Homo sapiens: one gene and its partners. The protein of the gene in region 1 purifies or fractionates together with the protein of each later gene. This does not show direct contact. Each region holds a gene or a part of one and is shown in the gene's direction. Other genes may lie near its edges.

Evidence for each region.
Region 2: the proteins of TUBGCP4 (region 1) and SPTLC1 purify together in Homo sapiens (affinity purification with mass spectrometry; one large-scale study listed by BioGRID and IntAct). This does not show direct contact.
Region 3: the proteins of TUBGCP4 (region 1) and SYNRG purify together in Homo sapiens (affinity purification with mass spectrometry; one large-scale study listed by BioGRID and IntAct). This does not show direct contact.

Annotation. Positions count from the first base shown.
Region 1 is NC_000015.10:43,381,056-43,384,709, forward strand, and holds part of TUBGCP4 (gamma-tubulin complex component 4), read left to right. Parts: intron 1-2,247; coding exon 2,248-2,449; intron 2,450-3,654. UniProt on the Homo sapiens protein: Component of the gamma-tubulin ring complex (gTuRC) which mediates microtubule nucleation.
Region 2 is NC_000009.12:92,045,833-92,049,486, reverse strand, and holds part of SPTLC1 (serine palmitoyltransferase 1), read left to right. Parts: intron 1-1,778; coding exon 1,779-1,874; intron 1,875-2,218; coding exon 2,219-2,315; intron 2,316-3,433; coding exon 3,434-3,488; intron 3,489-3,654. UniProt on the Homo sapiens protein: Component of the serine palmitoyltransferase multisubunit enzyme (SPT) that catalyzes the initial and rate-limiting step in sphingolipid biosynthesis by condensing L-serine and activated acyl-CoA (most commonly palmitoyl-CoA) to form long-chain bases.
Region 3 is NC_000017.11:37,550,282-37,553,935, reverse strand, and holds part of SYNRG (synergin gamma), read left to right. Parts: coding exon 1-821; intron 822-3,654. UniProt on the Homo sapiens protein: Plays a role in endocytosis and/or membrane trafficking at the trans-Golgi network (TGN). May act by linking the adapter protein complex AP-1 to other proteins. Component of clathrin-coated vesicles.

The DNA of each region.
Region 1 (3,654 bases):
CTTGGCCTCCCAAAGTGTTGAGATTACAGGTGTGAGCCACCGCACCCGGCCACTCACAACTCTTAATCTCCACTCTAACCACTGCATGAGTAAATCCTCCAGAACATTCCTTAGGGACTTAATTCTCTATTATACTTTTGTGTATAGAATATAAAATCTAATGTAGATGATACTATATATACATGTTTGTTCTGTGTTTGCAGGGACCAAACTTTACAGACCACATACTCAGAAATGCATAAATGTAAATAGCTTCACATTTGATCTTTTTAAAGAGAGATTCCATTCAGTTAAATAACACAGTCAAGTTCTTGTAATTTCTTTTTCTCCCAACCTTTTATTTTGAAAAATTTTAAACCTACAAAAAAGTTGAAAGAAACGTATAATAAAACACTTGTAGGCTGGGCTCGGTGGCTCACGCTTGTAATCCCAGCACTTTGGAAGGCTGAGGCAGAGGGATCGCTTGAGCCCAGGAGTTCGAGACCAGCCTGGGCAACATAGCGAGACCCTGTCTGTACCAAAAATAAAAAAATTAGCCAGGTGTGGTGCCTGCCTGTAGTCCCAGCTACGGGAAGCTGAGGCAGAAGGATTGCTTTAGCCCAGGAGGTTGATGCTGCAGTGAGCTGAGATCTCGCCACTGTAATCCAGCCTGGATGACAGAATGAGACCCTGTCTCAAAACAAAAAACAAAAAAAACCAACCAAACGCTAGTGTATCCTTTAGTTTCACCATTTGTTAACATTTGCCACGTTTGATTTCTCTTTTTCTCCTTCTATACGTATATGTGAAATGCACAAATTTTTTTGCAGAGTCATTTGAAAGTAGTCACAGATACCCTAACACTTAAATACTTCAGCTTGTATCACTTTAGAAAAAAGGCATTCTTGGCTGGGCATGGTGGCACACACCTGTATTCCTAGCACTTTGAGAGGCCAAGGTGGGTGGATAGCTTGAGCCTAGGAGACCAGCCCAGGCAACATAGTGAGACCCCGTCTCTACAAATACAAAAAAAGTAGGCATGCTGTGTGCGCCTGTGGGCCCAGCTACTTAGGAGGCTGAGGTGGGAGGGTGGCTTGAGTCCAGGAGGTCGAAACTGCAGTGAGCCATGATCGTGCTACAGCACTCCAGCCTGGGCAACAGAGTGAGACCCTGTCTCAAAAAAAAAAGAAAAAAGAAAAAAAGAAAAATAAAAGAAAAAGGGATTCTCTTATAGAACATCAATTCCATATTACACCCAAGAAAGTTAACATTAATTCAGTAATACTATATCCAAATTTTTCTAGTTGTCCCTCAGAATTCCTTCATAGCTGTTCTTTTTTTGCAATCCAGGATCCGATCAGTGTTCACATACTACATTTTGTTCTCATGTCTTTTTAGTCTCCTTTAATTTAGAACCGTCCCCCTTGCCTTTTGTTGTTCTTGGTGTTTTGGATGACGCTGACATTTTAAGAGTCCTGACCAGCTGTCCTGTATAATGTTTCACAATCTGGATTTATTGTTTCCCTATGATTAGATTCAGATTAAACATTTTTTGGCAAGAATACTATGTAGGTGATATTATTTCCCATTACATCATATTAGAAGGTACAGAAAGTAACTTTATCCCATCACGGATGTTATGAAGTTGGATCACTTGGCTTAGGTGTTTTCATCACGTCCTGCTCCATTATAGAGGTACATTTTCCCCTTTTTAATTAATATGCTATCTGGTGGGTGATCCTTTGAGACCATCTGAATATCCTATTCCCCAACAACCATTCTGCATTTTGTTTTAGTTTCTGAATTTTGCTAGATAATGGTTTTTCATGTATACCTGGCACTCACGTATTGAATATTCTCTCCCTAAGTGATTCCAACAAAAATAAAACAAATTTAATACTGTGTTAGCCAAAAAGAGACTCCATTAAGTCGATTTTTAAAATTTTTTATTATTTTTATTTTTTATTGCTATAAAACAGTTGTACATATTTAGGACCCATCAGTTTTGAAAATTACATAAAAGAAGGGAAGAAAATGTCTTCCCTAAAATAATATCAGCACATATACTGAACATTTTAGATTTCATTGTGTAGGCTGCAAATATGGAAATTCAGTGAGTTAGTTCACCCACATTTAAATTAAAATAGCACAATTATTTTTAACTTAATTGGTTATTTCTGTTATGACTCATCAAATTCTCAGGCCTCTGTTTATCCTGTAACAGTTTAAAGCATGACTTCTGAGCCTCTTACTTTCTACTCTGCCCAGAATCCTGGCCGTTTGTCATGGGGTCATGTATAAACAGCTCTCAGCCTGGATGCTCCATGGACTCCTCTTGGACCAGCATGAAGAATTCTTTATCAAACAGGGGCCATCTTCTGGTAATGTCAGTGCCCAGCCAGAAGAGGACGAGGAGGATCTGGGCATTGGGGGACTGACAGGAAAACAACTGAGAGAACTGCAGGACTTGGTGAGAGCCCAAAAAGTAGCCTAGCACTCTCCTGCCAGGAGTCAGAAAAGCATGCACACAAATGATCTTCTGGTGATCCCTTCTTAGCTCATAGCTGAGCACCTTCCATCAATCCTTTCGATGTAAACATTCGGCTTTATCTTAACTAGTGTGAGACTATAAAATAGAAAATATGTTTGTGATATTCTTTTTGTTTCCTCTTTCCCAATATATGCATTTGAGAGATTATAAGTCTTACTTATGTAGCTACTCTAATGGAGCAGCTAGCTACATTTTAGATTTTAAATACAGTTTGGAGTTTTGTTTTTTTTTTTAAAGACAGATTCTCACCCATCGCCCAGGCTGGAGTGCGATGGCGCAATCTTGGCTCACTGCAGCCACTGCCTCCCAGGTTCAAGCAATTCTCCTGCCTTAGCCTCCCAAGTACCTGGAACCAGGCATGTGCCACCATGCCTAGCTAATTTTCATATTTTTTATTTTCATATTTTTAGTAGAGACAGGGTTTTGTCATGTTGGCCAGGCTGGTCTCGAACGCCTGACCTCAGGTGATCCACCCGCCTCGGCCTGTAAGTGTTGGGATTACAGGCATGAGCCACCGTGCCTGGCCAGTTTGGTGTTTTGATTAGACTCCTCAAAGTTCTACATTGTCCATATTCATCCATTCATCCATCCATCCATTCATTCATTTATCCTGTGGCAATATTTCATTGAATGCCTGTTATGTGCTAGGCATTGTTCTAGGTGCTACAAATAAAAAGTAGTAGTGTCTGTCCCTAAGGAGCTCATAGTTTAGGGGAAGAGATATAGAAAAGTAAACAGTTACATTACAGTGTGCTAAGGGCTCTGAAAAGACTAAATATGGGTATTCTTGGAACATGGTCATGGGATAGGGTCTTGGAGTGACTAGGGAAGGCTTTTCAGTGGAAGGTATGTCTAAATTGCAAAGAGTTTGGGAGGAGCCATCAAGAGACATCCAGGCAGAAGGAATGATATGTGTAAAGGTACAGGGGCCATTAAGGACATGGTTCATTTGGGGAAACAGTAGTAATTCAATTGAAATGATCAAATAAAGGCTGAAGTAAAATGTTACAAGAGATGGTGTGAGGGAGAGGTGGTACTTGAAACTGTGTAAGTTGGTACTTGATGAAACTTGAGTTAAGCAGAGGCAAGATCACAAAGGTGCATGTAAACAGTGGAAATGAGTT
Region 2 (3,654 bases), on another chromosome or scaffold:
GTGTCAGAAACACCACTGGCATGCATTCAGCAAAACCTCTTAAAGTCCCAAACAGAATGAGGTGTCATGTTTCCTTTTCTGAGGGAAATGGACCCAGACTGCCCGCAGTGCCTAGTGGGTTTTGCTCCTGGAGCCTCAGGGCAGAGGAAGTCAGCCAGTCTTGAACAGCTGTCTTACCAACCACCATGGGAAGAGTTACAGAAAGCTTTTTCTCCAAAACATGCGCATAAGAGCTGTGCAACCTGTGTTACAGAGTTGAACTATAAAACGTAAAATTGCCTTACATTATCGACATCCCGCTAACCATATAGTCCCAGAGAAAAATGTAAAGCAGAGTGAATATCCCGGGAGGTTGGATGGAAGCACCTCCTCCAAGGCAGACTGACATTCAGCAGTTACATGCACCGAGGAGGTAAATGGAATAAATGGAAAGATAAATGGAAGTGTAATTCAAGCAGATTTAGCAGTACACTACAGCCTTTTTTAAGGCATGAAAATTTTTATGGAGGAAAAAACTTGAACTTCACTGTTGTAGTTTTGTGAATGCTTCCAGCAGTTGTCACTTTGGGAAATACTGTGAGGAAATACTCACAAGCGCCTGAGAGTAGAGAGCAGAATGTACGGGCTTTATTTGGATCCTGATTCAAACAAATGCTGTTAAAAGAAAATTTGGTGAGACAATCAGAGATATCTGAACACTGAATATTTGAATATATTTAACATCAAATTTAAACTTAACATTTAAAAATTGTTAATGTCTTAAGTATGATACTAGTTTTGTGATTATGTTTTGAGAGAGTTTTTATCTTTTAGAAATACACAGTGCAATGTTTATAGATGAAACCCCATGAAGTCTGGGACTCACTACAAAGAAATGATGAGGGTGGTAGGGGATATAGGTGAAGCAAGGTTGTCCTTGAGTTGATAATGTTTGAATCTGGGTGATGGGGATTCTTTGTTCTGTTCTACTTTGTTCAGGCTTGAAATTTTTCATAATGAAAGGTTTAAACATGCTTTTTAAAAAGGGCAGGAGTGCAGAGTTTCTCAAAACTCTGCTGGATCTATGAAACACTAAGGAAAACACTAGCTGTGTTCTGACAATCCATTAACATGGCCATCAGTAAGTAATGATTGAATGCCTACTGTGTGCCCAGAATGGAACTTGGTGCTGAGGGCTGGACCCAAAGATGAGGACCGAAGGAGTTCTGAGTGGTCAGAAAGATGTAGGACTCAAAGCCCATTAGGTCATTTTAGAGCACATTAGGTTCTTCTGCTGTCCAGTTGGTCAAAGATTCCATCGCCATGACGTTTGGATAAATTGACTTATGAAATGCTGAGAGGCAAACTGAATACAAGAATAAAGTGCTCAAAACTTCGATAGACTTTTTATTTATCTCAGTGCATCCCATGAGGAAGGCCAGCTAGACCACTGTTTTAGCGAGGAAATAGTCTTATTTTGTACCTGTGACTACTTTTAATATCGAACAGCTTTGGGTTTTATTTTCTTATAATTTATTTGTCTTTGCTGTGAGTTAATTTGTCATGTATAATGAAATGGTAAAAATGTATAAAATGAGACAGTTTCAGATGGGCCATGAGACTACAGTTCATTCAGCGATAGATGTTATATGGTTTATTTTTTATTTTCATGTAGATAGGTAGTTTGAATCCAGATATTAACAGACAGTTTAATGCTGTTAAATTTTGTCTCTAGGCTTGAAGTTGGCCTTTTTTTTCTTTAAACTGTGGAATAACTGTCACTCCTCCTTTTCCGGCAGATTGATGATATTGATCTTATCAGTGCCAACATGGAGAATGCACTTGCTTCTATTGGAGGTTTCTGCTGTGGCAGGTCTTTTGTAATTGACCATCAGGTGGGTTCTTTTTAAAAACAGGAGCTAAAACTGAAACTAATTTCTCCATTGGTCACCTCAAAATATAATTTTGAAATACGAAATTTTACTTAGTTTATCACACAATTTTTATTTAAATGTCAATTTTTAAAGAATCACTCAAAATATTTCTATTTAGAAATGATCTCACATTTAACAAAAAGTCTTGTTGCTGTTACACGTATAATGTTTATTTATGGCTGGATCTTACCCCCCTCACCACATGTACACACTGTTCAGTAGTTGTTCTAGAGAACTGGTGCCTTTCAAATGTTTACCTAGAAAGGACAGAGAATGTGTATATGTCTTCATTTGTTTCTTCTCAGCGACTTTCCGGCCAGGGATACTGCTTTTCAGCTTCGTTACCTCCCCTGTTAGCTGCTGCAGCAATTGAGGCCCTCAACATCATGGAAGAGAATCCAGGTATAACCCTTTAAAAACCCAAGGAATCAAAGAGATTTCAGGTTACGTTAGTTGTGTTACTGATTTACTTACTGGAGAAATTATTTGCCAGACAAAACTGGTTTGCAGTTACATTATATGGCATTCATAGGAAGAATGGCAGTGAAGAAGCTATTCCTGCCCCAAGGACTTGGGGTCAGAGCTTTTCTCCTGTGCTTGGGGCCAGAGCCAGAGCCAAAGCAAGGCTAGCTCAGATAGTGGGTGGAGATGCTGGGAGGACGAGGGGCTCTCAGCCAGTTCTGGGCCTAAACGTTCCATTGGTGTAAATAAGCCAGTCTTTATTTGGTTAATAGTTTTTTGAGAAATCAGCTGAAGCATGCTGCTTTTTTATCTGTGCAATTTTATAAATATTGTGAGTTTTCACCTTTAGCCTTTGAATCATCAGTTGGTACTGAGGCCAAGCCGGGTTTACCAGCAAAGAACTTACTCAGTGGGAAAAATAAAAAGTCTACTAAGAATTTAAAATGTGGCCTTTGGCTATGACAGTGCCACCTTTGCAAAGCTTAAAACGGAAAGGGAGCAGCAGGCCCTACCCGGTACAGTATTTCTGAATCTTCATCACTGATACTAATTCAGAGAACCAGAAAATGTGTGTCTCTGTGCTCATTCATATGCTTGCTTCTCAGATGGCCTGGCACGCCTACCTTCTGATCAGATACTTTAGTTTTGGGATTTTCCTTGAATAAAAAAGGAAAATATCAAGAAAAGATTGTAAAAATTACTTTACTATAGTTGATTTTTTACCAAATTGTTTAGGATAAAGAAATAAGCAATAAATTTGTACCCTTTGATTCTTAGCCAGATTAGGATCTTGATGAGAACAAGAGGCATTGATTGTTCTTGAAAGCATCATTCCAGGTTTGTTGAAAGTGGGATACTGAGGTGAGAAGGGGCCAGTTAGCACGCACCAGAGACAAAGCTTGGGCCTTCAGGGGAGTATGGGTTCTTGGCTCTGTTAGTATGTAGAAGGATTTGTAGCATTTTAAATTGATGAACTTGATCTGGGTCTTCAAAAATATTTTTAGGTTAGTACTATCATAAGTTTCAAATAGACTCTCAAACGTATTTTTTTCATCTAGGTATTTTTGCAGTGTTGAAGGAAAAGTGCGGACAAATTCATAAAGCTTTACAAGGGTGAGTTTTATATATTTTCAACCAACATAAAGTTTATCTGCACCACACTTAACAACTAATGGAAAGTTTTAAATTTCTAGGCTTGGGTCAGTTTGACCAGATTGCAGCTAAGAAACCAAAAACTTAGTTCACTCACATTGGTTTATTTGTGTAAAACCAGATCATC
Region 3 (3,654 bases), on another chromosome or scaffold:
CTCAGGAACTATACAACAGAAACAACAAACACAAGTGAAAAACCCTCTGAACTTAGCAGACCTAGATATGTTTTCCTCAGTTAATTGCAGCAGCGAGAAACCATTGTCTTTTTCAGCTGTGTTTAGCACATCAAAATCAGTTTCTACACCACAGTCAACAGGTTCTGCTGCTACTATGACAGCATTGGCAGCAACAAAAACTTCTAGTTTGGCTGATGATTTTGGAGAATTCAGCCTTTTTGGGGAATATTCTGGTCTAGCACCTGTTGGGGAGCAGGATGACTTTGCAGATTTTATGGCTTTCAGTAATAGCTCTATTTCATCTGAGCAAAAGCCGGATGACAAATATGATGCCCTTAAAGAGGAAGCCAGTCCTGTTCCTCTAACCAGCAACGTGGGCAGCACAGTGAAGGGTGGACAAAACTCGACTGCTGCGTCTACCAAGTACGATGTCTTCAGACAACTTTCTCTGGAAGGGTCTGGACTAGGTGTTGAAGACCTGAAAGATAACACTCCTTCAGGAAAAAGTGATGATGATTTTGCTGACTTCCACTCCAGTAAATTTTCTTCCATAAACTCGGACAAATCCCTGGGAGAGAAAGCAGTGGCTTTCAGACACACCAAAGAAGACTCTGCATCAGTGAAGTCCTTAGATCTCCCTTCCATTGGTGGCAGCAGTGTTGGCAAGGAGGACTCTGAAGATGCACTCTCTGTTCAGTTTGACATGAAATTGGCTGATGTGGGAGGAGATCTTAAGCATGTCATGTCTGATAGCTCTTTGGATTTACCAACAGTTAGTGGCCAGCATCCTCCTGCTGCAGGTGAGGAATTGGTGAGATTGCTCTGGTGATGGTGTTGTAGATTTCAAAGATGATTCTGCGGGTGTTGATTTACATGAGTAAGGCTCTGGCCCTTTAGCTTTATGAATCTCTAATAATCAACCTCTTTATTGCCAGTCTCCTTAAAGCAGTGTTAAATTTGATTCTATGGATACTTGATATGGATACTATGGCTACTGTGGAACTTAGATTGGGTAGCTAAGATATTTTTATTTTTGAAATCTAGCACCAGCTTGGTGTTAGAGGCACATAAAAAGTCACTGCTAAGTGAACCTCACATTGCCAGAAATTTGATAAAGACCTTTGCAGTGCCGGCAGTGTTCCTTCATTTCTGTGAGTAAAATCAGTGTTTCCCTCTCCTTTTTTCTTCTCTTGGGTATACACAGCAACTGCCAGTATAGTATTCTGTTTGATTTACAGAAATTAACTCTTGTTAGGTCAAGAAAGTAAAAATTTCTAACCACTTGTAGTGCAGTTTGCCACATCCTTTTAAGAGAAGAAGAGGGAAAGAGTTTATATATGAATGTTCTGTATGTCAGGGCCTGGCAAAGAGGAGGGTGTGTGTTGTCAGTGGAATCCAGGAGCTGTTTTCAGTGTTAACTCTATTACTGGAAATATTAAGTTGTAACAAATCTGTAGATGCTAGGATAGGGTAACTGCTAACTTTCTGATAAAATGTTTGAAAACATCTTATTAGGGAGCCCTCTTTAAATTCTGTGTAGATTTACATGTAGCAATTTACTCTCTAGTTCAACTTCTGTCATAAAAACTAGATTCCCAAGTGTCCTGGTTTTTCTTTTGTTTTGTTTTTTGATATGTATATAGAAAGATAAACCTATTTTGTGGCCTTTTAATAATGAGAAATATCTCAGTATCACTGTATTATTCTAGAAAATGTATTATGCATATGAAGGATTTGGTTTTGTCTAACTAGGGGGGACACGTGAGACACTTCCAAGTTTACAGATTCAGGCAGAAATTGTAAAGTCCTATAGCTTTTGCATATGTCAAATTGGCAAGTCGGAAAACAAAATTGCATCCATCCTTTGGTTATGGAAATGTTGTAGGTATTGCTAAACAGGCTGCTGAATCAGGAGCAAGTTAGCAGAGACATTGCATGTTTCATGTTGCTACTTGCTAAGGTATTTTTCAAATGCAGTGGGCGGTCTGAAGAGCTCCTGTGCCCTTGACTGTCTACTTTCTGTCTTTTTTTTTTTTTTTGTACTTTTCCTCAGAAATTTTCTTATTTTTTTGCTGCTGTTTGTTTGATAGAGTGATTGTGGGTTTTGTTTTGTTGGTTTTTTTTTTTTATGAGCTGCTTGAACCACAGCAGTTGGTTGCAAAGTGCTCTGTTTTCTGAACAATATTGGATTTTTATTTAAAAATCTCATAACATGTATACTAGCCTTTTGGACTCTGAAGTTATTAATTAGAAACTATTTTTCTGAAAGTGAATCTATATTCTTTCACAGTGCCAAGGTAGATGTCTTTATGAAATGAGGCTAATCCGGGTTTGGGGTGTCTTTTTTTTTCCCCCATTTTATTTGGAGGTTGGTTTTTTTGACCAAGCTTGTTCTTACTGACCTGTTAAAATAATCTTCTGTGCTCATGTTCTTTTATGTATGTTTGGAACATCCTCAGCTTGGAGCCTGTAATGTTCAAGCTAACTCTTCAGTTGGAGGATATTCTTAAAAGCAGATTGTTTCCTCCCATTGATCTGTAAACCTCCTGTCAGAAAGGAGCAGTATCCCTTTAGAGCGGTTGTTAAAAGGGGTTGATGTCTGACCAATGCGCTATATTGCTGTTGTGCAAAATTGCTGCATCAATGTATTGTAGAGGGTAAATGGCAAGGACTTATTCAAAGTAATGTAGTTTTATTTTATCCTCATGTTCACCACAGTATCTCTTGCTCTCTTAGTTTGAGGGTTAAAGGTACTTCTTGTTGGAGAAATAAGAAGTGAGCTGATGAAGAGAGAATAAAACCTGGTAGATTGCTATCTGCGGACCTTAATCCTGTTTAGAAGCCCTAACTTAACTCTGAAGGGGATACTGTCTCTTTTAACTCTTGCTATAATCATTTGTATGGAAGGTAGATAATACTGATAACATTGCCTGATTTCTCTGCGTATTATTACATTTAACCCTTTGAGGCCTTGCTGCATATAATTTCAACTAGGCTGTTTTTTCCCCCTGACTAAATTTAATCTGCGGCACTGAAGCATCTTGACGTGCAGTCATTAAAATCATATGGTTTTATTGGCAGCAAGAGCTGACCCTCATCTGTGACATTTTCAAAGGGTTAGCAAGACTTCTGTAGCTACCTACCTACCTATCTGTAAAGTAGCTCTTCTTTGACATTGAAAATCTTTGTATTTTAATTAGCACCTTTTTTTTTTTTTGGCTGCTTTTCTGATGTCTTTTTTTCAATTTAGACATTTTCTGTGTGAATGTGCCTTCAAATTTACTTTAGTATATTCCTCTGCAAATACTGATCTGCATGCTTATTCTGATGACTTCTTTTCCAGCTCTTCTGTATCACTCTCTTTTGTGATCTGTAAGTCTTGTGTTAATAAATAATTCTTTGGCATATTTTGAAAGTGTGGGGATGTGTGTAATTTGTACTTTTTCAGGGTTAGACCAAAGAAATACCTGGCTGATACCAAGTTTAAAGCAATAGTATCCTAAGACTAGAGGGTTTTCCCCTTTTGTTTTGTTTCGTCAAACACTTGTCTCCTGAGAAAGTATTGGTACATTTTAGCCTTTGTTTCTTATAATTCCATTAATGTAAGTTTTTAACATGGCATTGGATTGAAAT